Homo sapiens: one gene and its partners. The protein of the gene in region 1 purifies or fractionates together with the protein of each later gene. This does not show direct contact. Each region holds a gene or a part of one and is shown on either strand. Other genes may lie near its edges. The genes, in order: BTBD1, AMY1C, RABGEF1, COPS7B, TRAPPC10, TRAPPC9 and AMY2A.

The links.
Region 2: the proteins of BTBD1 (region 1) and AMY1C purify together in Homo sapiens (affinity purification with mass spectrometry, with the first as the bait; one large-scale study listed by BioGRID). This does not show direct contact.
Region 3: the proteins of BTBD1 (region 1) and RABGEF1 purify together in Homo sapiens (co-immunoprecipitation; one large-scale study listed by IntAct). This does not show direct contact.
Region 4: the proteins of BTBD1 (region 1) and COPS7B purify together in Homo sapiens (affinity purification with mass spectrometry; 2 studies listed by BioGRID and IntAct, with this or other methods). This does not show direct contact.
Region 5: the proteins of BTBD1 (region 1) and TRAPPC10 purify together in Homo sapiens (affinity purification with mass spectrometry; 2 studies listed by BioGRID and IntAct, with this or other methods). This does not show direct contact.
Region 6: the proteins of BTBD1 (region 1) and TRAPPC9 purify together in Homo sapiens (affinity purification with mass spectrometry; 2 studies listed by BioGRID and IntAct, with this or other methods). This does not show direct contact.
Region 7: the proteins of BTBD1 (region 1) and AMY2A purify together in Homo sapiens (affinity purification with mass spectrometry; one large-scale study listed by BioGRID and IntAct). This does not show direct contact.

What each region holds. Positions count from the first base shown.
Region 1 is NC_000015.10:83,019,088-83,022,252, reverse strand, and holds part of BTBD1 (BTB/POZ domain-containing protein 1), read left to right. Parts: intron 1-1,490; coding exon 1,491-1,578; intron 1,579-3,165.
Region 2 is NC_000001.11:103,748,644-103,752,697, reverse strand, and holds the start of AMY1C (alpha-amylase 1C precursor), read right to left. Parts: upstream 2,801-4,054; 5' UTR 2,632-2,800; intron 2,275-2,631; 5' UTR 2,229-2,274; coding exon 2,061-2,228; intron 1,716-2,060; coding exon 1,569-1,715; intron 766-1,568; coding exon 568-765; intron 120-567; coding exon 1-119. UniProt on the Homo sapiens protein: Calcium-binding enzyme that initiates starch digestion in the oral cavity.
Region 3 is NC_000007.14:66,792,733-66,796,232, forward strand, and holds part of RABGEF1 (rab5 GDP/GTP exchange factor), read left to right. Parts: intron 1-2,778; coding exon 2,779-2,860; intron 2,861-3,500. UniProt on the Homo sapiens protein: Rab effector protein acting as linker between gamma-adaptin, RAB4A or RAB5A. Involved in endocytic membrane fusion and membrane trafficking of recycling endosomes. Stimulates nucleotide exchange on RAB5A. Can act as a ubiquitin ligase.
Region 4 is NC_000002.12:231,803,445-231,806,598, forward strand, and holds part of COPS7B (COP9 signalosome complex subunit 7b), read left to right. Parts: intron 1-3,154. UniProt on the Homo sapiens protein: Component of the COP9 signalosome complex (CSN), a complex involved in various cellular and developmental processes.
Region 5 is NC_000021.9:44,078,309-44,081,808, reverse strand, and holds part of TRAPPC10 (trafficking protein particle complex subunit 10), read right to left. Parts: intron 2,246-3,500; coding exon 2,105-2,245; intron 1,795-2,104; coding exon 1,682-1,794; intron 1-1,681. UniProt on the Homo sapiens protein: Specific subunit of the TRAPP (transport protein particle) II complex, a highly conserved vesicle tethering complex that functions in late Golgi trafficking as a membrane tether.
Region 6 is NC_000008.11:140,370,745-140,374,244, forward strand, and holds part of TRAPPC9 (trafficking protein particle complex subunit 9), read right to left. Parts: intron 437-3,500; coding exon 220-436; intron 1-219. UniProt on the Homo sapiens protein: Functions as an activator of NF-kappa-B through increased phosphorylation of the IKK complex. May function in neuronal cells differentiation. May play a role in vesicular transport from endoplasmic reticulum to Golgi.
Region 7 is NC_000001.11:103,616,273-103,620,226, reverse strand, and holds the start of AMY2A (pancreatic alpha-amylase precursor), read right to left. Parts: upstream 2,801-3,954; 5' UTR 2,787-2,800; coding exon 2,619-2,786; intron 2,274-2,618; coding exon 2,127-2,273; intron 1,317-2,126; coding exon 1,119-1,316; intron 674-1,118; coding exon 443-673; intron 1-442.

The DNA of each region.
Region 1 (3,165 bases):
GTTAGACTCCATCTGTAAAAAAAAAAAAAAAAAAAATTAAACTAGCAAGGAATGGTGGAGTGTGTCTGCAGCCCAGCTACTTGGGAGGCTGAGGTGGAAGGATCACTTGAGCCCAGGAGTTCAAGCCTGTGGTGAGCCATGATTGTACCACTGTACCCCAGCCTCGGCAATAGAGCAAGACTCCATCTCTTTAAAAAAAATTACATGTTTGTAAGCGTTTAAGGTGATCTTACTGTACCAGATGTTCAAAATAGTACTGTTATCTAGCTTATAGGGCTGTTACGATGACTAAAGGAAATAATTCTGTAAAGAACTGAAGTTCAGTGCCTGGCACACTAGGAAGTACTCATGAAGTGGTATTGATGAGTTAGTATTACTAATAATTGAAGGTGTTGCTGACAATGTTGAGAGTTACTCAATGTAATTTTGCAATGTAAGACATTATAATTATGTCAGATTTTACAGGCTTTTAGTTCCATATGTATTATTATTATTATTATTATTATTATTTGAGAAGGAGTCTCGCTCTGTCACCCAGGATGGAGTGCCGGGTCACCTGCAGCTTCCTTCTCCCAGGTTCAAACGATTCTCCTGCCTCAGTTTCTCTAGTAGCTGGGATTACAGGTGCCTGCTATCATGCCCAGCTAACTGTTATATTTTTAGTAAAGACAGGGATTTGCCATGTTGGCCAGGCTGGTCTGAAACTCCTGACCTCAGGTAATCCACCTGGCTCAGCCTCCCAAAGTGCTGGGATTGCAGTGTGAGCCACCACACCCAGCCTCAGTTCCATATGTATTTAATGTCAGTTTTTATTCATTTACAAAATGGAGTAAGATGGGTCAATATTTCTTAACTATTATGACCAAACTGGACTTGTTAATTATTCTAGTTAGGAAACTGCATTCGAATCCTGTCCCATCCCTCTGCTACCAGTATTCTGTTAGAGTAGCCTACTTCCTTCACAGCTCTTGTTACAATTTGTAATTATTTATTTATTCCTTTCTTGCATTATCAGTGTCCTCCATTAGACTGTATGCACAATGCAGGTAGAAACTGTCTTGTTGACCATTACTTCCGCAGTGCCAAGCCTAGTACCTAAATATGATAAGCCCTTAGTAAGTATTTGTTGAATTGATAATTGTCGTAGTTTGAGATGCTGGGCTTCAGTCCTAATGGCTGAGATGTCTGCGTTCATGAAAAAGATGTACAAATATTTGGACTCGTATAGCACTAAAATTATCATTACAACAAAAGTGGGTATTTAGGTTAAATTCTTTTACAAAACCAATTCTTAGGTTCCTCTTAAGTTCAAATCTGCTCTAGAAAGCTTTTTGGTAAGCAAACAGATGACATTTCCAAGGATATCTAATTTGTTTTCCTTTTTATAAGCAAAACTGGATGTTCCAGGTTACACTTAAAAAAAATTATAACCCTTCAGAATATGAACACATGGGATTAATTATATTTTATTTTTGGCTTCTTTCTCTCAGATTCACAGTTAATAGAAGGATCTCTATAGTTGGATTTGGCTTGTATGGATCTATTCATGGCCCTACAGATTATCAAGTGAATATACAGGTACAGTTTCCTCCCCCACCATATATCATTTTGAAATAACACAAACAGGTAACTTTAAGATATTGTTTTGACAGAATCCAAATTTCAATATAATTGTCAAAGCAATCAGAAGGCCCCTTAGTAGCATTGTAAGCATAAAGAGTTCTGTTTTAGAGTTGATCTAAAAAGTCTGGTTGCAGAAAATTGGGGTCCTTCACAAAAGCAGTAGCATATAAGGAGCTCTTCTTTGTCCAGGAATCCCTTCTATTAGTACTTCCTGCTGTGCAGTCTTAAAACATCCTCCTGCCTTTTTCATGGCCCTTTCAACTCTAGGACTGAAACTAAATTTCTTGTAACTGGTGTGAGCATCCTGTGACTTCCAAGGGGCTGAGCAGACCCTGCTTTATTCTTGGTTACTTTTTTTTGAGACAGGGTCTCACTTGGTCGCCCAGGCTGAAGAGCAGTGGTGCGATCACAGCTCACTTCAGCCTTAATCACCCAGGCTCAAGCAATCCTCCCACCTCAGCCTCCCAAGTAGCTAGGACCACAGGTATGTGCCACCATGCCCAACTAATTTTTCTTTCTTTTTTTTTTTGTCTCGCTGTGTTGCCCAGGGTGGTCTTGAACTCCAGGGCTCAAGTGATCTTCCTGCCTTGGCCTCCCAAGGCATTGGGATTACAGGCATTAGGCCCCTGCTTCTTTTTTTTTTTTTTTTTTTTTTTTTTTGAGATGGAGTCTTGCTCTGTTGCCCAGGCTGGAGTGCAGTGGCGCGATCTTGGCTCATTGCAAGCTCCGCCTCCCGGGTTCACACAATTCTCCTGCCTCGGCCTCCTAGCACTTTGGGAGGCCAAGGAAGGTGGATCACGAGGTCAGGAGTTTGAGACCAGCCTGGCCAACATGGTGAAACCCTGTCTCTACTAAAAATACAAAAAAATTAGCTGGGCATGGTGGTGCATGCCTGTAATCCCAGCTACTCGGGAGGCTGAGATAGGAGAATTGCTTGAACTGGGACCTGGGAGGCAGATGTTGCAGTGAGCCAAGGTCATGCCACTGCCTTCCAGCCAGGGCTACAGAGTGAGACTCCGTCTCAAAAAAAAAAAAAAAAAGACACCAGGCTTCTTGTGTACAAACTGTGGGAGGGCATCAGGATTATAGGTACATTAAAATTATGAAGTATAAATACTGTGAGTAAAATAATAGAAACAGTCTGGGCGCAGTGGCTCAGATCTATAATCCCAGTACTTTGGGAGGCCGATGTGGAAGGATTGCTTGAGCCCAGGAGTTCCAGACCAGCCTGGGCAACAGAACACGATCCCATCTCTACAAAAAAAATGAAAAATTAGGGCTGGGCGCAGTGGCTCACACCAGCACTTTGGGAGGCTGAGGTGGGCAGATCGCTTGAGACCAAGAGTTGGAGATCAGCCTGGCCAACATGATGAAACCCTGTCTCTACTAAAAATACAAAAAAATTAGCCAGGTGTGGTCGCGCACATCTGTAATCCCAGCTACTCAGGAGGCTGAGGCACGAAAATTGCTTCAGCTTGGGAAGTGGAGGTTTCAGTGAGCCGAGACCCCAACACTGCACCCCAGGCTAGGCAACAGAGTGAG
Region 2 (4,054 bases), on another chromosome or scaffold:
ATTCTGAACCCTGCAACACCAATGTCAATGAGATGGTTCATATATTCGGCAATCTTAGAACGCACATAATCCTTCCCCAGTGCAAGATCGAGAAGACCAGACAGACGACAATCTCTGACCTGTTGAGGTAAGAATGTTATGATTGATTAATAAAACCTCACTTTTCGCCTGAGAATCCATTTGATTATTCATTTATTCCATGATTCCTCAAGAGATATTCTATGGTGACTTCCTTGCATTGGACACTGGGGATGCTCACATTCTACTATAGATGTATCTTGGAAATATTTTCTAATAGAAAATAGAGAACTTAGGAAATAAAGTCGATGAGTTTTTCAATTGGTTGGGAGCTTTTTAAAAGTGGACAAATGTGTATTGATTAAAAATCTTAAATCAATATTTAAAGGTTTTCAAATATGGATTTGAGTTTCTTAAAGTAGTCAAACTTGTTAACCTCTGTCCCTAAGAGATCTAAATTCATATTTACAACGAAGTTCAATTAGCTACATGTCTACAACAAAAGGCATATATCACTCCTTATTCAGATCACTCTCGTAAAAAAATTACCTGAGTAGCATCATTATAGTTCTCGATATCTCCACTTCCAGTTTTACATTTACCATCATTAAAATCCCATCCAGAATATGGGACTGCTGGAAAGTCCCTACTTCCAGGGTTGAAGTAACTTCCACAGGTACTGCTTGTTCCTGCACTCACAGCATTACCACACATATGATTAATTACAGCATCCACATAAATACGAACCTAGAAAACAAAGTTTCTAATTCAGTGTGACTTACAGAGAGGCAGAAATTTAAAGAATTATTGATTAAATTTATAGTGTGCTAATAAAATTCCAAAATATTTCATACCTTATAACTATTTTCCTACAAGATCAAAAATCAACTGTGAAAGGAAAGTAATGTGAACTAAACACCTACATTCATTCCAGACACTTGGCCAAATATATATAGGAATGATAAACTGAGAGAACCGGAAACTACCATAAATAGGAGGAAAGGCAAAAAGCCCATTTTGGGGAGACACAACTCAGATGAGACTGAAAAGGTTACTATTTGGGAAATTTCAGTGGGTCACCAGGAGAAAGCCTGTACTCTCTACTAAGCTTGGAAGACAAATAAGGTAGCTATTCATCTCAAATTCTGCTCCTCATTAAATAGATAAGCTACCTATTCACCACAAAAAAAACCCAAGAATTAGGAATGGAGACACAAGTCATCTAAAAATGAGAGCAAATATTGTAACTGGAATTAAAATTCCTCACCAGAAAATCCTTCCAGGAAATATGGATAGTTATAGCGGTTAAAATTTGATGTTTTGCTTCAGAAGTAAACTCTGCTATAAACTTTAACTTATCTCTTTAGTAGAGAGCACATATACAAATATTTTCAAAAATTGAACATAAGGTGACAGTTACTTTTGAGTTTTAAAGTATGAAGTAAAATTAAAACTGATATGGAAAACTTTCTGCTCAAAAGGAGCAAGAAAGAAGAGACAGAAATCATTTTCCTATCTGTTATTTTTAAAGGAAACTAGAATTCACTTACCCCAACATTGTTGCATCTAGTCACCATGTTTCTAAATTCATCTTCATTTCCAGATCTTGTGCATAATTTATAGCTAACTGGTTGGTATCTTTCCCACCAAGGTCTGAAAGGGTTGTGAATGGCAACATTTTCATTTGGTGGAGAGACCTACAAATTAAACAGTCTTCATAAGTACCAAATTCTGTCTTACTGTATATCATTGAATGTTCTAGAATCTAATCAATAATACAAAAGATTCTTGAATCTTGGTATAGGCAGCTATCTCTTGAAAATATTAACAGCACATCGGAGGGCTCTTGTTGAAGAAAGATTATATCAGAAACAAAATATACAGTTGCAAAGAATACTACATTGTTTTTTCCTCAGAAAATTCTTTTACTTAGAATACTTACCTGTGAAGTAAAATGTTGCCCAAGCTTCACGTAGAAGATCAGAATAGTGTTTACTACAAGCACAGTGAATTCTGCAATTGATACTATGAATCATACCCACCTGAACCCCTCCAAATCCCTTGGGAGCTAAATATCGCTCACATTCAAGAGCAATATCAACCCATCGCCATTCAAACAGATGAACAATAGATGTTCGTCCTTGTTGTGTATTTGAGGAATACTGAGCCCAGCAGAACCCAATGGTGAAAAGCAACCAAAAGAGCTTCATTTTGCTTTGAAGTTGTCAGTGTCCTTTCCAGAAACTATTTATATTCCTGTAAGAAGCACATTTTACAATGTAAATAGTAGCATGAATAAATACTTGAGGGCAAACTGTTTATTCATAATCTGAAAAGGATTATCAATAATAATCCTAACTGGTGAAGAACATCAAAAAGTCTCTCATGGAAATCATCTCAATGACCTCTTAGACATTAATGTTTCTTTTCTTTTCTTTTTTTTTTTTTTTTTGCATATGGTAGCACTTTTATTTTTCCTTACACAATGACATGTTGCTGTGGCCTAATGTTCTCACATAACAGCAGAAAACCAAAATTTGTTGTCAACTCTTAAAAGATCGAGAATTGCATACTAAAAAACTTTACATAAATTAAAAGGATGAATACATTTACCGGTATAAATGCGAACCGCTTCCAACTCAAGGCAAGTAACAGCCCACGGTGCTCTGGTAGATAACGTAAGCTAAGAAAGGAAACTGGGTCCTATGGCTTGGACTTTCCAACCCTGACAGACCGACAAGACGGAAACAACTGGTTCAGGAGCCCTTCCCAGCCTCTAGATAAATCTCAGAACACTCAGCCCTGACACATTAATACCCTGCACGGATCAGAGACTGCTGACCACACAGACTCACCAAGCCAGACTTGTCTTCCACAAGCACGTTTTTAGCCATGAAGTGACCAAGCCACGTGTACTAAACACTGACATCAAAGGTATGTACAGATACCAAGGGGAAGAGTTAACTTGAATGCCAGGCCAAAATCAGCAACAAGTTCTACAATCCAGTGCTGATATTGAGAAGAGAGAAAGACCCTGTCCTCTTGTTTTATATTGTTTTCTATTCAGTAAAAACAACAAGGAAGCAAAATCAAAGGCACAAAACCAGGCCTGGGCCTGGTTGGCCTAAACCCAGTAGTTACAAATCAACTTATGATTTAGAAGCCGATGTTATTCATAGATTCCAGACATTGTATAGAAGAACATTGTGAAACTCCCTTCCATATTCTGTTTCTCCCTGACCACGGGTGCATGTAGTCCTTGTCGCATATCCCTGGCTTGTTCAAATCAATCACGACCCTTTCATGTGACATCTTTAGTGCTGTGTGCCCTTAAAAGGGACAGAAATTGTGCACTTGGGGAGCTCGGATTTTGAGACAGTAGCTATCCGATGCTCCCAGGTGAATAACACCCTTCCTTCTACAACTCGGTGTCTGAGAGTTTTGTCTGCCGCTTGTCCTGCTACATTTCTTGGTTCCCTGACCTGGAAGCAAGATAACTGATGGACGGCCGAGGCAGCTCCTTAGGCAGATTAGGCATGCCTTGTGGAGTAAGGCCGGGGCATCCCTCAGGCTGCCAGGGACTCTGGCCAGCCTGAGGGATGGGATCCAAAGAGCGCTCCCAGGTAGGAAATGGCCCCGGTTGAACGCCTCGCCAGAGCAGTGATCCCCGCGGAGGATTAACACAGTGGCTGAACACCAGGAAGGAACTGGCACTTGGAGTCCAGACATCTGAAACTTAGTAAGACAAGTCTTTTCAACTTGCCCCACTCCACCTGAGCGGAAGCTTGGCCTGATCGCTCATGGTGTGCCTGCACCCATATCAATTTCCATATAGAGATTCCTAGTTACAGCTAGTTTTAGATCCTCTACAGTGGTAAAAGGACAGGCAGCAGCAGTAGTAGTAGCAAAGGGACATTTATTTCAGGAAAGTTCTCGCTCCACCGGCCAAGAGAAGCCAGCACCTAAAGTTCTGTTTGACCCAGAGCTCGAGGACTCAAGGCAGGAGATGGCACCAACAGTGCCCTCAACCCCTTAT
Region 3 (3,500 bases), on another chromosome or scaffold:
TATAAAGGGAGGAATGGTAATAAATGGCCACATTTATTCATTCAACCCATACTGAGCACTAACCCTGTGCCTGGCCTTGTTCTAGGCATGAGGATATGGTGGTGAACAGTGCCCTTGTGGAGCTAACATTTTAGTTGGGGAAATGGACAATAAGCAGATCTGTAACATAGTGTTAAGTCCTACAAGAATGGAAAGCAGGATGAGAGACAGTGGCAGGGGTGAGTTCTTTTACATTATGAAAGCAATACTGTACTGGAGCATAAACTGCAGTAGAAATAGAAAAGGAGTTTTCGGCATTGTATTGTAAAATTACAGGGGTTGTGCTGGGCTGGGGGAGGAGAATATGATCCCTTGACACCAGTAAGACAGGCCTCTCGGGTCTCTAAAAGGAGCTCAGAGAGTTTCTAGTTGGAAGCGAGCACTACAGGTTGAGTATCCCTTATCCGAGAGCCTTGGGACCAGAAGTGTTTCAGATTTTGGGGTTTTCCCAGATTTTGGAATATTTACACATATATAAGATAACTTGGGACTGGGACCCAAGTCCAAACACAGAATTCATTTGTTGAATATATGCCTTACATACATAGCCTGAAGGTAATTTTATACCACATTTTAAGCAGTTTTGTGCATGTAACAGTTTTGGCTGCTTTTTGACTCTAGCCCATCATCACATGAGGCCAGGTGTGGAATTTCCCACTTGTGGTGTCATGTCGACACTGACAAATTTGGGATTTTTGAGCATTTCAGATTTTTTATTTTTGGGTTAGGAATGCTCAAATCTGTAGTAATAATCACAAGAATGAATATAGTTTCTTCTAAGTTAAGTGCTAAAATTTGGTGCAAATGAAAGGTGTAAAACCATGTGTAAACTACCTAAAAAGATTGAATGGATAAGCTTTTGCATAAAATACTTGAAGTAGAAGGATAGATTTGAGCACTGCAGTGTGTGCATGTATATGGGTAACTAGTTGACAGTAACAAGGGCTGCAGTCAAGGTGATCACAAAGTGCCATGAGTGCTTGGCCATTTTTACTGAGGGAATGAGGTGACTGCTCCTGACCCCAAGTGTCCTGCCATCCTTTTAGAGTTAAGCCAGATGGTCAGACTGCTGTGGGCTTCCACAGGATGTATCGGCCCTTGGCGTGTGAGGTCAGTGGCCTGTGTAGATGAAGTCTGTGACAGCCCGTCCTGGGGGTTTGTTCTCGGCCTTATTCATGTTCTTCTACTGTGACATCCTTATGAGAACCGTTGGGAGAAATTTTTGATTTTGGTGTCAGAATTTCACCCGAATAATTTGTTTGCTTTCATCTTTTGAACCCTGAATTACATAACTGTTTTCATCCTAGTGATGGTTGCTAAAAAATTTAGTTAGAGACAGATGTATGGGCTGACTCTTGACTAATTTAGACATCTTCCAGGAAAACATTTCTGTCTTGTCATCTGTGGCTCTGCTTTAGGTCTCTCTCCATGTTTAATTTTTTTTTTTTTTTTTTTTTTTTTACTTATTATTGTTAAAAAAATTTTTTAATTTCTTTCTTTCTCTTTCTTTCCTTTCTCTCCTTTCTCTCCCCTTTCTTTCTTTCCTCTTCTCTTTTCTTTTCTTTCTTGAGATGGGGTCTCACTATGTTGCCCAGGCTGGCCTCAAACTCCTAGGCTCAATCGATCCTCTAGCCTCAACCTCCCAGAGCACTGGGATTACAGTTATTTGTTATTCTTTTTATTTTCTAGTCTCTTGTGCTGAACTGCATTTATCTTTTAAATAGCCTTTAAATATTCTTTGGCAGAAAGTGAGAAACAAATACATATATTACACCTATAAAATCAGTAAAACCAAATAAAAATTATCAAGCCCAATGTTGTAAGGGCCATAGGGAAGTAAGTGCATACACGTGGTTAATGACAGTGTGCACTGAGTTTCTGAGGAGTGTGGCTAGCAATAGATACTTAGTGCTATAACATTGTTTATTCATATTAAGCGGTTAATGCCACTTTTGGAAATGTATGACAGAGAACCGAAAAGAAGATAGTCCTTACAAAATTATTTATACCTACAGTGCACAACAGTGAAAGAGGGGGAGCAACTCAAATGCACAGTGGTAGAGGAGAGTCGAAGAAGTCAGTTAATATAATGCAGTGTTATAAAGCCACCAGAAATGATTCAGTGGATTAGATAAATAGAAATGTACATAAAATATGTAAATTATCAAAACATGCATTAAATCTATTTAAGAATACGTAGATTTAGCAAAAAGAATGAGATGGTCATGGTGAGACCGCTAGGTGGGAAGGGGTCCCCGGAAAAACTCCAGCCAGCCTGCCCACCGGGGTGGAGTTTTGGGAAGTTTGCACCATTTGTAGCAGGGAGGAGCCTGGCCCCTCTTCTTTCTGTGTGGAGCCCAGGATTCTAGCTGCTGGCAGGAAGCACTCTAGCAGGGACTCTGGCCTTGTGAGTGTCTCGGATTCCCCCTTTTCTTCCTTTTCACCTAATAAAACCCTGTCTTACCCACCATTCAAACCGCCTGCGAGCCTAAATTTTTGTGGCTGTGAGACGGACAAGGATCCCGTCTTTAGCTGAACTAAGGAAAAGTCCGGCAACAATGGATATTGGAAATAATATTAATGGATAGGTTTTACTCTCCTGCAGGATTAATATAACCTGTGAGTACTTTTAGGCTTACTACCAGTACAAGGAATGGCTTTTGGAAAGTTCTTAGAATGTAGAGCTGTGCTTCTGCACTTTGTTCAGCTACAAGCAGCCTCTTTGTCTCTCTGTTTCAGGATCTAAGCATTGAAGAACAGTCAGAGTGTGCTCAGGATTTCTACCACAATGTGGCCGAAAGGATGCAAACTCGTGGGAAAGGTAACACTGTTAGCCATTGAGAGATTGCGGGTATTGCACAGGGATGACTGCTCAGTCTCTTAGCAATTTCTTTCTTTCTCTGATGGTCTGGCTGGTTTGTAGACTTCATCCTGTAACCTCATGGACATTCTGGGAACTGGTCTTATACTTAGCAGTGCCTTTGAACTGTACCATGCGTATCTTTCCAGGAGCAATTGGATAATTTATTGAGTAACATTTAATAACTCCATTGGGGCAGGGCTGGAGCTGACGAAAACATCTTAGGGCCTGGCTCAGTAGCTCATGCCTGTAATCCCAGCACTTTGGGAGGCTAAAGCAGGCGGATCACGTTAGGCCAGGAGTTCGAGACCAGCCTGGCCAACATGGTGAAACCCCGCCTCTATTAAAAATACAAAAAGTAGCCGGGTGTTGTGGTGCACCTCTTATCCCAGCTACTCGGGAGGCCGAGGCACAAGAATTGCTTGAACCCGGAAGGCGGAGGTTGCAGTGAGCTGAGACTGTGCCACTGCACTCCAGCCTGGGCAACAGATCGAGACTCTGTCTTCAAAAAAGAGAGAGAGAAAGAGAAAAACTTATTGGAAGGCTTTGCTAAATGAATTTTCCATCTTGGAATCACCATTTTGGTGAGTTATTGTATTAA
Region 4 (3,154 bases), on another chromosome or scaffold:
ACCAAGTTTTTCCCTGGGCCAAGTCTTATTTCTTTTTATTGCATGTCAGGGTTACTGAGCCCCTAAAAAAGCTGAATGAGAGCAGTTTCTACAGGAGAAAATGGCTTGAGGAAGTAAATAGGCATCTGAATAACAGGGGAAAGTGTCCATGCTTCTGTCTACTTATTTGTTCAAAAGCTTTTGACAGGATCTTGAATCTCAAAGGCTTTTAAATAGAATTGAGTCACCATGAGAGAGGGAGGCTGCGTTATGGTAGGGAGTGGCAGTACAGAAATGAAGCAGAGGGTCAGCCCTTCTGTGACTGCAGAAGGATGATGCGCGGGCTCCCTCAGGACCAGAGTGAGAACCATGAGTTTGTGGCTCTGTGAAGGAGAAGCATTGGAAGTGTTGAGCTTTGAAAAGAAAAAGAGTAAAACAGCAAAGCCTTGGGAGTCAGTTGAACTGGTCAGTTGCTGAGAGGCTGGCAGCGGAGCGTTGCCGTTGGTGGATGTGCCACAGGCAGAGTTTGCTCCTTGGCTGGCAGGTCAGGGACTCATCACTCAGCCCAGCCATAGATACTCTGAGTCCAAAGCCGGCCCAAATCACCTTGGGCCACTCTAAAGAGAGAAATAAATGCCGGTTGTCACTTTCTGATAGGCTGATAATGACTTTATGCTACAAAAACATAGGTGAAGCGGATTGAAAATATAACCATTATTTGGGGATTGATTAATGCCTTTTCCTTACTCATGCAGGGGTTATGAGACTGTCAGTAAATCTAAGACATGTTAAATAATGTAGAAAACTATTTGTAGTATAAGCTGATTTTTTTTTTTTTTTTTGAGACAGAGTCTGGCTCTGTAGCCCAGGCAGGAGTGCAGTGGCGCGATCTTGGCTCACTGCAAGCTCTGCCTCCCGGGTTCACGCCATTCTCCTGCCTCAGCGTCCCGAGTAGCTGGGACTACAGGTGCCCGCCACGTCACCCGGCTAACTTTTTATATTTTTAGTAGAGATGGGGTTTCACCGCGTTAGCCAGGATGGTCTCGATCTCCTGACCTCGTGATCTGCCTGCCTCAGCCTCCCAAAGTGCTGGGATTACAGGCGTGAGCCACTGTGCCTGGCCTAAGCTGATTGTTTAGTAAAAATTATTACACAAATAACTTGAGGAAATAAGGCTAAATAGTGCTTATCAGACAAGATGAAATTAGGAATTTTTTTTGGTTTTGTTTTTTTAATTTTTAATAAAGCTATTTTGCCAAATGGGAAAGGTAATTATTTGCTTGGAAAGATACCCCATTTTGGAAATACAGTCCTTGAAACAAAAACTTGTTTGTTTTCTAATGTCTTATTTGATTAAAATTTTGTCAGCTTTTGGGGAGACTTTAAAACACATTCCCTCAGGTAATGTTAAATTGCAGGATCTTCTTTGGAAGTTAGAGGTAACTGACATGCAAATAAATAAACTAAAGTCATGTCGTTACCTCTTATTATGATTTTAGTTCATTTTCTTCTGGATATTTAGAAAATATATCAAATTGGAGAAGCCTTAGAATGTTATTTTATAAAGCAGTGTTCCCTGAGAAGTCAAATTTCTTAATTTTTCCTCCAATGTCATCAAAATATGCCTTAGCTGGGCATGATAGTATGTGTCTGTAGTCCCAGCTACTTAGGAGGCTGAGGCAGGCAAATTGGTTCATGCCAGAAGTTTGAGACCAGCCTGGGCAACATAGCAAGATCCCATTTCTATTTTTTAAAAAAAGTCTTAAAACAAATAATATTTCTTTTATCAGAGAAAGAGTGATAAGCCATTGGCTTGCTCCAGATCATTCACTCACCACCTTGCCAGGTGACTCACTGAATGAGGTACACCAAAGTGGCAGTGAGCCGCTGGGAGGGCGAGATGCCTCAGGGTTCTGGGGTTCCCAGATTGTGTTTTGTTGTCTGGCAGGACACTGGATAAACCCAGAGTTGAATTCCCCTCCCTGTTTATTATATATATATATATATATTTTTTTTTAAATTTTATATATATATATATATATATATTTATATATTTCCAGGCACTGGGTCTTGCTGTGTCACCCAGGCTGGAATCAGTGGTGTAATCATAGTTCACTGCAGCCTCAAACTCCTGGACTTAAGTGATCCTCCTGCCTCAGCCTCCTGAATAGCTAGGACTATAGGCATGTGCCACCACACCAGGCACATGTTTTTTTCTTTTATGTCTTTTTGTTGAGATAAGGTCTTACTTGAATGTCATCTAGGCTGGAGTGCAGTGGTGCAGACATGGCTCACTGTAGCCTCTACCTCTTGGGCTTAAGCGATCCTCCTGCCTCAGCCACTTGAGTAGCTGGGACTACAGGTGCATGCCACCATACCTGGCTAAAATTTTTTTTTTTTTTTTTAAGAAAGACAGGGTCCCACTATGTTGCCCAGGCTGGTCTTGAACACCTGCTCTTGAGCAATTCTCTTTGCTCAGCCTCCCAAAGTGCTAGAAGTATAGGTGTGAGCCACCATGCCCAGCCTGCCCTCTGTAATGACTGTTCCAGCCCACAGTCCTCTGTCATTCTCTCTTCAGAAAGGCTACAGCGTTGATTGAGGTTACAGAAGTTTAGGGCATGGCTTTTCCCCCTGTCTCAAAATAGTGACAACAAAAAACAATTTATGATCTAGTTAAGGTGGATTCTGCAGATGATGGCTCTCCTCCAGGAACCCAATTTTTGTCTCACCCTCATAGCATTGTTTTGTCTTTGCATTTGGACTGTCTCTTACCCTCAAGCTCATAATATTCTGACTGTTGAGAACTTTTGACCCTGACAACTCCTTTTCACTATGTAGAAAACTGGCTGGGTGTGGTGGCTCATGCCTGTAATCCCAGCACTTTGGGAGGCCAAGGTAGGAGGGTCAGTTGACCCTGGGAGTTTGAAAACAGCCTGGACAACGTGGTGAAACCTTGTCTCTACAAATAAGTTTTTAAAAATTAGCCAGGCATGGTGGCAAGCGCCTGTGGTCCAAGCTGCTCAGGAGGCTGAGGTGGGAGGATCACTTAAGCCTGGGCAGTTGAGGCTGCAGTGAGCTGTGATTGTGCCACTATACTCCATCCTGTACAACAGAGTAAGACTCTGTCTCCAAAAAAAAAAAAAAAAAAGACTAAAAAAGCTATTACTTATTTGAC
Region 5 (3,500 bases), on another chromosome or scaffold:
CTCCTGGGCTCAAGCGATCCTCCTACCTCAGCCTCCTGGGTAGCTGGGACTACAGGTGCCCGCCACCACACCTGGCTAATTTTTTGTAGAGACAGGGTTTCGCCATGTTGCCCAGGCTGGTCTCAAACTCCTGACCTCAAGTGATCTGCCTGCCCCGGCCTCCCAGGGCAGGCAGAAGTTCCTAGAAGTTTCAGGGTCAGGTTGATGTGGTTATTGACTGCTGGGGTGTATTCACTTACAAGCATCTGGGGCCCAGCGTGGTGGCTCACGCCTGTAATCCCAGCACTTTGGGGATTACAGTATGGGGTTTCTTTTTAGGGTGATAAATATGTTTTAAAATTGACTGTGGTGGCCAGGCATGGTGGCTCACATCTGTAATTCCAGCACTTTGGGAGACCGAGGTGTGTAGATTCCTTGAGCTCAGGAGTTAAAGACCAGCCTGGGCAATATGGCAAAACCATCTCTACTAAAAATACAAAAATTAGCCAGGCATGGTGGTATGCTCCTGTAGTCCAAGCTACACAGGAGGTGGAGGTGGGAGGAGCAATTGAGCCCAAAAAGCAGAGGTTGCAGTGGGCTACAATCATGCCACTGCACTCCAACCTGGGAGACAGAGAAGAAAAAAAATAGCTGGGTGTGGTGGCCCACACCTGTGGTCCCTGCCACTCAGGAAGCCAAAGTAAGAGGATCTCTTGACTCCAGAAGGTTGAGGCTACAGTGAGCTGGGATCGTGCCACTGCACTCCAGCCCAGGCAAGAGAGCAAGATAGTCAAAAAAAAAAAAAAAAAAAAGAAAAAAAAAAAGAACAATAATATTGACTGTGGTAATGGTTGCACATATTCCTGAAACAGACTAAAAGCCATTGAATTATAAACTTCAAATGAGTGAATTACATGGTTTGTGAATATCACAATAATGCTGTTACATTTTAAAAAAAAAAAAAAGCACCATCTTAAAAAATGAAGAAAAAGACTGGGTGCGGTGGCTCACATCTGTAATCCCAGCCCTTTGGGAGGCTGAGGTGGGTGGATCACCTGAGGTCAGGAGTCTGAGACCAGCCTGGCCAACAGAGCAAAACACTGTCTCTACTAAAAATACAAAAAATTAGCAGGGCATGGTGGCGGGCGCACGTAACCCCAGCTACTTGGGAGGCTGAGGCAGGAGAATTGCTTGAACCCGGGAGACGGAGGTTGTGGTGAGCTGAGATGGCACCATTGCACTACAGCCTGGACAACAGAGCGAGACTCTGTCTCAAAAAAAAAAAAGAAGAAGAAGAAAAAGAGATGGGAAGAACTTTTTTTACATTAAAAGAGAACTGAGATCTAACAACCACATGTAATATGTGATATCCTGTTGGACTCCATTAAAAATGATTTATAAAATACTTTAAGACAATTAGGGAAATATGAATATGGCCTACTTAGCAGATGATATTAGAACCTTATTAATTCTTTGGGTGTGGTTAAGAGACTGTCCTTATTTTTAGAAGATCTAATGTGGTCTAGAGTTTGACTTAAAGCAAAAATAAAAAAAAAAGTCAGGTGAAAGACATAGATACATGTCAGCTACACAGCAAAATGTTAGCAACTGTTTACTGTAAGTGGTTGGTATATCTTGTATTCTTTTTTACTTCTGTAATATTTGAAAATATTCCTAGTCAAGTTGTAAGAACTGGTCTTACCTGGGCTGTCTGACGGCTGGCTGGCAAAGTCAAGTATCTCCTGGCAGAAGTGCTTGCGCTCCTCTTCAGTGAGGTGGTGGTCACTGGCTAAGAGGCTGCTGGTCTGCAGGTAGCTGGAGCGGAGAGGTAAGGAGCGTGGAGAGGCTCATACTTAGGAGTGCGGGGGGAAGTGGATGCAAAGTCTCCTACGGCCTTCACAGAGGCTTCAAAAGCCAAAGGGCTTTTTTTTTTTAAGTTACTAGGGCTCAAAATTAGATTATAAAAAATCGACTAGACATTTCATTCATTTTCTATACAATACATATGTATAAGTTAGGACTTTTCTCTCCTTAATAATAGGTGTGAATGAAACATTGATTGTGGGCAATGTTGCCGTATAAACAGAAAATAATTTTCCTGCTTCATGAAAACATTAAAGGATACTTTTCAATTTGTCCAAGGTGCTTTTGACATTCGGCCAGCTGCTTCCTTGTGTGTGTGATGGGGAGTGCCCAGCCCTCAGCCAGGTAGTTTTTCAGTGCTCCTTGAAGATAGATTTCTGCCTTTTGTGGAGCCTTTTTCCTCCTTGCAAAGTCAACAAACAGTAGCTTTCATTACAGCTAGGGATAATCAACACACTGAAACCCCATCTCTCCCGCTTTGGCCTCCATCCTCCAGACCCCATGCCAGGACAGACTCAACATCTCTAGATAGCCCTTTTCCACCCACCCCACTCCGTGAGAAAGAGTACCTACTCAGGACGACATAATTAGACTCCCAGGCAAAGATCTGAGAAATGAGCGTGTGGTGATAAGAGCACAACACATCGTTGGTCTGGCTTTATACACATGTCGAGGAACTTTCATAGCTGAATCTCAGGATAAGAAAGTGAGCCTATCATTCATGATCTCAAGCTGACAGGCAAGAGGGCCAAGGCTAAGAGAAGGTGAAGGAAGGGCTTGTCCACAAGTACACTGCTAGTCAGCAATGAAGCCAGGAAGTCCAAGTATGGGTCTACACTACCTACTAAAGGCACAGAAACACAGAAGCAGTCTACAGGGCGCAAGCGGAAGGGAGCACAGAGCCACTTGGAAACTCAGGCAAAGAGCACTCCACAGGATCCAGCTTCCAGAGAACGCCGGAGAATTAAAATAGCCACACTTGGCCCCCAAAGCAAAGTTTAAAGCACAACTGTTTTTTTTAAAGATGGGGTCTTGCTCTGTCACTCAGGCTGGAATACAGTGGTGTGATCATAGCTCACTGCAGTCTCAAACTCCTCAGCTCAAGTGATCCTCCCGCCTCAGCCTCCTCCACTGTAGCTGGGACTACTGGTGTGTGCGGCCTTGCCTGCCTTTAAAATGCAAATTAATAAGGGCTTGTCAAAGCCTCAGGAGCAACAAGGATCCCCTCCCCTTTCCCGAGAAGCCTCTCTGCTTCCTTAAGGAGCACCTTCCTCTTCAGATACACAGCATGGAAGTTCAAGAGAGCTACATTCTAGCTGTGACTCTGCTGTTAACCAGTGGGTAATCGGCAAAGCTGCTCCAACCACATCCGGAAAACCAGAAAGTTCACTTAGCTGATCTAAGAATCCCTTTCCAGCCAATTCACATCAGTTCAAATCAATTCTCATTTCTTGCTTCACCTAATGAAATCACTTGAGTACAGATTTCAAGATCTCATTTCAATCACTTTTTTTTTTTTTTTTTTTAGAAAATGAAAACAAGCATCTTTTTCCTTATAGCTTGTATCTCCTTTGAGTACTCTGAAATGGTAACCACATGACCCACTGGGGTTTCTTCTCTTTGATAGTCTGATTTTATGAAACACACCAGAAATACGC
Region 6 (3,500 bases), on another chromosome or scaffold:
CCACTGATAAAGATTCAAGAATCCGAGCCCCAAGGCAAAGCACCAGTACTTTTTCCTATAATCGGATTACAGCAGGCACCCAACTCCAGGGCAGGGATCTAGTCATTCTGGAGCCACCAGCACCAACCACGATGTCTGCCACTCAGGGCAGGGGCTGAAACAGCATGTGACCATCAGACAGAAAGCAACACCTTAGCGCCAGCAAGGGGACTCCAGTACCTCTGCTGAAATCTTTGGGATCCAGCGACAGACTGTAGCCGGGCAGCGTTTCCAGGAGGAGTTTGTAGCAGGCCCTCCACCCAGGCTCCGCGATGCTTGGGGCCACGCACTGCATGGCGGCCACGCGCTTGAAGAACGCAGACTTGCGATGGAAGCCGATCAGCTCATAGAGCTCGGAGAGGATGCTGTAGCGCTGAATTTTCTCTTCCTCAGAAAGCTGAAGCACAGAGAGAAAGTAAAAAGCTTTTGAAAGAAACGTATAAGTGAAAAAAGAAGCACACATTAAAAATGTCTCTTCATAAAACAAAGACCTGAGGAGAATCGAGGAGAATCAAGGAGAGGGAAAGCCTGGTGAGCAGCGCATGGCGCAGGCCCCAGGTGGCTTCAGACCTTCCCCAGCCACAGCTGCAGGTGCAGCCCATCTTCCTGCTGATAAAGCCCAGATTCTCTGCTACAAAGGTACCTGCTACAAATCTGAGACCTCTACTTTAAGTTCCTTCACAAAAGAAAAGAAAAGGAACAAGAGTTCATCTACACAACAGGATTTTATCAAGGTCTCTCATCAAACACAAAAATTCTTAAAACACAAGAAGACACAGAATCATGTAACTGGGTAATGAATTATTAACAATACCACTGATATCAGACTTAAGACTTCAGGGTTTACAAAAGTTTTCTTTCATCCAAGACCCAACTGAATCCTCCCAACAACCCTGTAGTGTAGCAATCATAACTTCTGTTTCTTTTCTTTTTTTTTTGAGACGGAGTCTCACTCTGTCACTCAGGCTGGAGTGCAGTGGTACGATCTTGGCTCACTGCAACCTCCACCTCCCGGGTTCAAGAGATTCTCCTGCCTCATCCTCCAGTGTAGCTGAGATTACAAGCACCCACCCCCATGCTGGCTAATTTTTGTACTTTCAGTAGAGACGGGATTTCACCATGTTAACCAGGCTGGTCTCGAACTCCTGACCTCAGGTGATCTGCCTGCCTCAGTCTCCCAAAGTGCTGGGATTACAGGTGTGAGCCACCACGCCCAGCCAACAACTTCTGTTTCTTCAGCACCTACTGTATGGCAGCAGACTTAACGTACCTGATTTACTCAATACAAGCATCCTGTGAGCTGGCAAATAAGGACATTAACAGCTCAGGGACACATTAATCACCTGTGCAAAATCACACAGCCAAGAAGTATCAGGGACAAGACCTGACTCTGGGCCTGGGCCCTGCCCACTGCACAGCGCCTTCAGAGAAGAAGGAAGGCAGAGCCCACTCTGCTGCTCCAGGAGCACTGTTAAGGAAGCGCTTCTCTCCCTCCTCTGCCCTGGACGATGAATGTTTCCCTGATGTTTCTGTGAGTACAGAGCCTTAGCTTGAACGCCCTTCCAACTTGGGCCTCCAAACCCTCCCTCCATCCCCTCTCCTCCGCGCTCACTGCCATGGCCTCGATGGGGCCCTCGTCAGCCCTCATCTGGAAGAGGAATCGGCATTGTCTTCCTACCACCTCTCGACCTTCCTTCACCTGTCCACACACCCCTGCCAGACTTAGGTTCCTGAGACATGGCTCAGAGCCCATCACCCGAGCCACGGTTTGAATGTTTGTGCCTCCCCAAAATTCACATGTTGAAAGCCTAGCCCCCAAGGTGATGGAATTAGGAGGTGGGGACTTTAAAAAGTGATTGGGTCAGGGGGTGAAGCACTCACAAATGGAATTAGTGCCCTTATAAGAAGAGACCCTAAAGAGCTAGCTCACCTGTTGCACCATGTGAGAACACAGAGAAAAGACGGCGGTCTATGAACAAGCAAGTGGGCCCTCCCCAGACACCAAACATGCTGGCACCTGGATCATGGACTTCTAGCCTCTAGAACTGTGCACAATACATTTCTATTGTTTATCAGCCACCCAGTCTGTGGCATTTTGTGACAGCAGCCTCACCGGACTAAGACAATCCCCATCTTGAAACCACTAGACCCCTTCAGGACTGTAAAATGGAGCCCAAATGCCTTCACGGGCATGCCAGGCCCTCCTCAGCCCCAACCTGCTCTGGAAATTCGAGGCCCCACTGCCTACCTATGACCTCACCAGACTGAACAACTTTAACTCATTTGTTTTCTCATTCTGTCAACACATATTTACTGAACCCCTACTCTGGTGCCAGCCACTCTTGTGGCAGAGGATACAGCAGTGAGCAAAACAAGCTAAGACTCCTACCCCTGGGGGCCTCCATGCTAATGACAGGCTAGTCCCCTGGCTTAGAATCAGTGGGGAGGATGACAATAAATCAATGAAAAAATAAACAAAATAGCTGCTCTAAGTCCAATGAAATACTCTTTGACATAGAATCATGGGTGGAAGCGTATGAGGCAGGCTGTACTAGGTGACGCCGCCGGGGCACACAGGCTCTCTGCTCCTGCAATGCCTCCACAGCCACATCTGGCTCTCCCTTTGGACACTCGGTTCCAATGCCACCCTCTCCAAGAAGCTGGTCCTCATGCCCTTCAGCGGGAAGCTGCTGCTTCTTTCCCTAAATTCTCCTAACCATGCTGGACTCCATAATGTCCTTTCTCTGTGTCTCCCACACAATTTACCTACATATCGGATCTCTGCCAGCCCCACTTTTCCTACAGTGAAAGGTCATGCCGACGCCGACGATGTGTGAGAATCCCTGTTGCTCCACCTGCTCACCAGCATATGAGGATATCACCTGCTCACCAGCATATGAGGATATCACCTGCTCACCAGCATATGAGGATATCAGTCTTTTTTATTTTAGACGTTGTGGTGGCTTTAACTTCCATTTCCCTGAAAACTAATGATGTTGAACCTTTTTCATATGATCACTGGCCACTGGTATATCTTCCTTTGTGAAGCGCTTGTTCAAATCTTCTGACAGTTTTTAAAATTAGATCGTTTGTTTTATTACTGAGTCGTACGAGTTCTGTATATATTCTGAATGCAAGTCCTTAGTTATATGTGTTTTGCAAATATTTCCTCCCGGTCTGTTGCCGATTTATTTCCCTAAGGGAGTGTTCATAAGCAAAAGCATTTCTCTGTGATGTAGCTCAATCTATCAGCTTTTTCTTCTATGGTTAGTGCCTTCTATGTCCTCATCTGAGAAAAATCTTTGCCCGAGGTCACAAAGATATCCTATGTTTTCATCTAGAAGTTGTTGTCTAGGTCTATGGTCCGTGAATATTCAAATTTGAGTAGGACATGGCCTGTCCCTTTCCAGGAGTGTGCAGTACAGCAGCGAACAGAAGCCCCAGTGCTGGAGGACAGCAGC
Region 7 (3,954 bases), on another chromosome or scaffold:
TCAACAGGTAATATTCTTATATTCTTTTATTTGATAAAGTATAGGCTACAATATTGAAAGAAGCATAATGTCAAAGATACCTGTTGTCCTGTGAAAATACTTACCTAATTTTTAGTCTTCTACATCAATGATAATAATAAGAGCTCACACTAATAAAACATTTAGTATCGACTGAAATTCCTTGATAAATATTAACTTGTTTCATTATCCAAAGAAAGTAAAGACATAACTATTATCAGTATCCTACATTCTGTGTACCTCCATAAAACATGTTGTGATAAAGAATTAGATATGCTGTATGTGAAGAAGAGGAGGTTAAAGAACACTGTTTTATGTAAATGTCTCATTCCTTATCCTACAGAAATTGCATTTTTAATTAAATCTTCCATTAATTTTCTAACGAATAAGATGATATTTTATAGGCATATAAGTATTGATGTACCTCCTGGTAAATGAAAGGTTTACTTCCTGCAGGGAACCAGTTACTGTTTAGATTATGCAGTTTGTCCAAAATTGCCTTTATGTCTCCAGGCCACATGTGCTTGGAAGCATCAAGTCTGAACCCTGCAACACCAATGTCAATGAGATGGTTCATATATTCGGCAATCTTAGAACGCACGTAATCCTTCTCCAGTGCAAGATCAAGAAGACCAGTCAGACGACAATCTCTGACCTGTTGAGGTAAAAATGTTATGATTGATTCATAAAACCTCATTTTTCTCCTGAGAATCCATTGGATTATTCATTTATTCCATGATTCCTCAAGAGATATTCTATAGTGACTTCCTTGCATTGGGCACTGGGGATGCTCACATTCTACTACAGATGTATCTTTGAAATATTTTCTAATAGAAAATAGAGAATTTAGGAAATAAAGTCGATGAGATTTTTAATTGGGAACTTCTTAGAAGTGGGCAAATGTGTATTGATTAAAAATCTTAAATCAATATTTGAAAGTTCTTAAATATGGATTTGAGTTTCTTAAAGTAGTCAAACTTGTTAACTTCTGTCCCTAAGAGATCTAAATTCCTATTTTAAATGAAATTCAATTAGCTACATGTCTACAAGAAAAGGCATATATTACTCTTTTATTCAGATCACTCTCGTAAAAAAATTACCTGAGTAGCATCATTGTAGTTCTCGATATCTCCACTTCCAGTTTTACATTTACCATCATTGAAATCCCATCCAGAATATGGGACTGCTGGAAAGTCCCTACTTCCAGGGTTGAAGTAACTTCCACAGGTACTGCTTGTTCCTGCACTCACAGCGTTACCACACATATGATTAATTACAGCATCCACATAAATACGAACCTAGAAAACAAAGTTTCTACTTCAGTGTGACTTACAGAGAGGTAGAAATTTAAAGCATTATTGATGCAAGTTTATAGTATGTTAATAAAACTCCAAAATATTTCATGATATCTTATAATTATTTTCCTACAAGATCAAAAATCAACTGTGAAAGGAAAGTAATGTGAACTAAACACCTACATGCCTTCTAGACACTTGGTCAAATATTTATAGGAATGATAAATTGAGAGACCAGAAACTACCATAAATAGGAGGAAATGCAAAAAGCCCACTTTGGGAAGACAAAACTCAGATGAGAGTGGAAAGGTTATTGTTTTGGAAATTTCAGTGGGTCACCAGGAGAAAGCCTGTACTCTCTATGAAGCTTTTGAAGACAAACAAGGTAGCTATTAATCTCAATTTATGCTCCTCATTAAATAGAGAAGCTAGCTATTCACCATGAAAAACCCAAGAATTACGGATGGAGACACAAGTCACCTAAAAATGATAGCAAACATTGTAACTGGAATTATACTTCCTAACCAGTAAATTGTTTCCGGGAAATACGAACAGTTATAAGGGTTAAAATTTGATGTTTTGCTTTAGAAGCAAATTCTGATTTAAACTTTAACTTACCTCTTTAGTAGATAGCACACACACAAATATTCACAAAAGTTGAACATAAATAAACAGTTAATTTTGAGTTTTAAATTATGAAGTAAAATTAAAAAAATAAAATACGGAAAATTTTCTGCTGAAAAGGAGCAAGAAAGAAGAGAGAGAAACCATTTTCCTGTCTGTTATTTTTAAAGGAAACTAGAATTCACTTACCCCAACATTGTTACATCTAGTCACCATGTTTCTAAATTCATCTTCATTTCCAGATCTTGTGCATAATTTATAGCTAACTGGTTGGTATCTTTCCCACCAAGGTCTGAAAGGGTTGTAAATTGCAACATTTTCATTTGGTGGAGAGACCTACAAATTAAACAGTCTTCATAAGTACCAAATTCTGTCTTACTGTGTATCATTGAATGTTCTAGAAACTAATCAATAGTATAAAAGATTCTTGAATCTTGGTATAGGCAGCTATCTCTTGAAAATATTAACAGCACATTGGAGGGCTCTTGGTGAAGAAAGATTATCTCAGAAACAAAATATAAAGTTGCCAAGAATACTACATAGATTTTCCCTCAGAAATCTCTTTTACTTAGAATACTTACCTGTGAAGTAAAATGTTGCCCAAGCTTCACAGATAAGATCAGAATACTATTTCCTACAAGCACAGTGAATTCCGCAATTGATACTATGAATCATACCCACCTGAACCCCTCCAAATCCCTTCGGAGCTAAATATCGCTCACATTCAAGAGCAATATCAACCCATCGCCATTCAAACAGATGAACAATAGATGTCCGTCCTTGTTGTGTATTTGGGGAATACTGAGCCCAGCAGAACCCAATGGTGAAAAGCAACAGAAAGAACTTCATTTTGCTTTGAAGTTGTCAGTGTCCTTTCCAGAAACTATTTATATTCCTGTAAGAAGCACATTTTACAAAGTAAATATTAGCATGAATAAATACTTGAGGGCAAACTGTTTATTCATAATCTGAAAAGGATTATCAATAATAATCCTAACAGGTAAAGAACATCAAAAAGTCTCTCATGGAAATCATCTAAATGACCTTTTAGATATTAATGTTTTTCTTAGGTTCTGGCAGCACTTTTATTTTTCCTTAAACAGTGACCTGTTGCTGGGGCCTAATGTTCTCACATAACAGTAGAAAACCAAAATTTGTTGTCATCTCTTTAAAGATCCAGAATGGCATACAAAAAAACTTTACATAAATTAAAAGGATGAATACTTTTACAGGTATAAATGCGAACCCCTTCCAACTCAAGGTAAGTAACAGCCCACGGTGCTCTGGTAGATAACGTAAGCTAAGAAAGGAAACTGGGTCCTATGGCTTGGACTTTCCAACCCTGACAGACTGACAGGACAGAAACAAGTGGTCCAGAAGCCCTTACCAGCCTCTAGACAAATCCCAGAACACTCAGCCCTGACACATTAATACCCTGTACAGATCAGAGACTGCTGGCCGCACAGACTCACCGAGCCAGACTGGTCTTCCACAAGCATGTTTTTAGCCATGAAGTGACCAAGCCACGTGTAGTAAAGACTGAAATCAAAGATATGTACAGATACCAAGGGCAACAGTTAACTTGAATACAAGGTCAAAATCAGCAACACATTCTACAATCCAGTGCTGATATTGAGAGGAGACAAAGACCCTCTCCTTGTTTTATATTGTTTTCTATTCAGTAAAAACAACCAGGAAGTACAACCAAAGACATGCAGCCCAGCGCCAGGCCTGAAACCAGGCCTGGGCCTGATTGGCCTAAACCCAGTAGCTAAAAATCAACTTATGATTTAGAAGCTGATATTATTCACAGATTCCAGACATTGTATAAAAGAACTCTGTGAAACTCCCTGCCCTGTTCTGTTTCTCCCTGACCAGCAGTGAATGTAGTCCTTGTCACGTATCCCTTGCTTGCTCAAATCAATCACGACCCTTTCATGTGAAATCTTTAGTGTTGTGAGCCCTTAAAAAGGACAGAAATTGTGCACTCCGGGAGCTCAGATTTTGAGACAGTAGC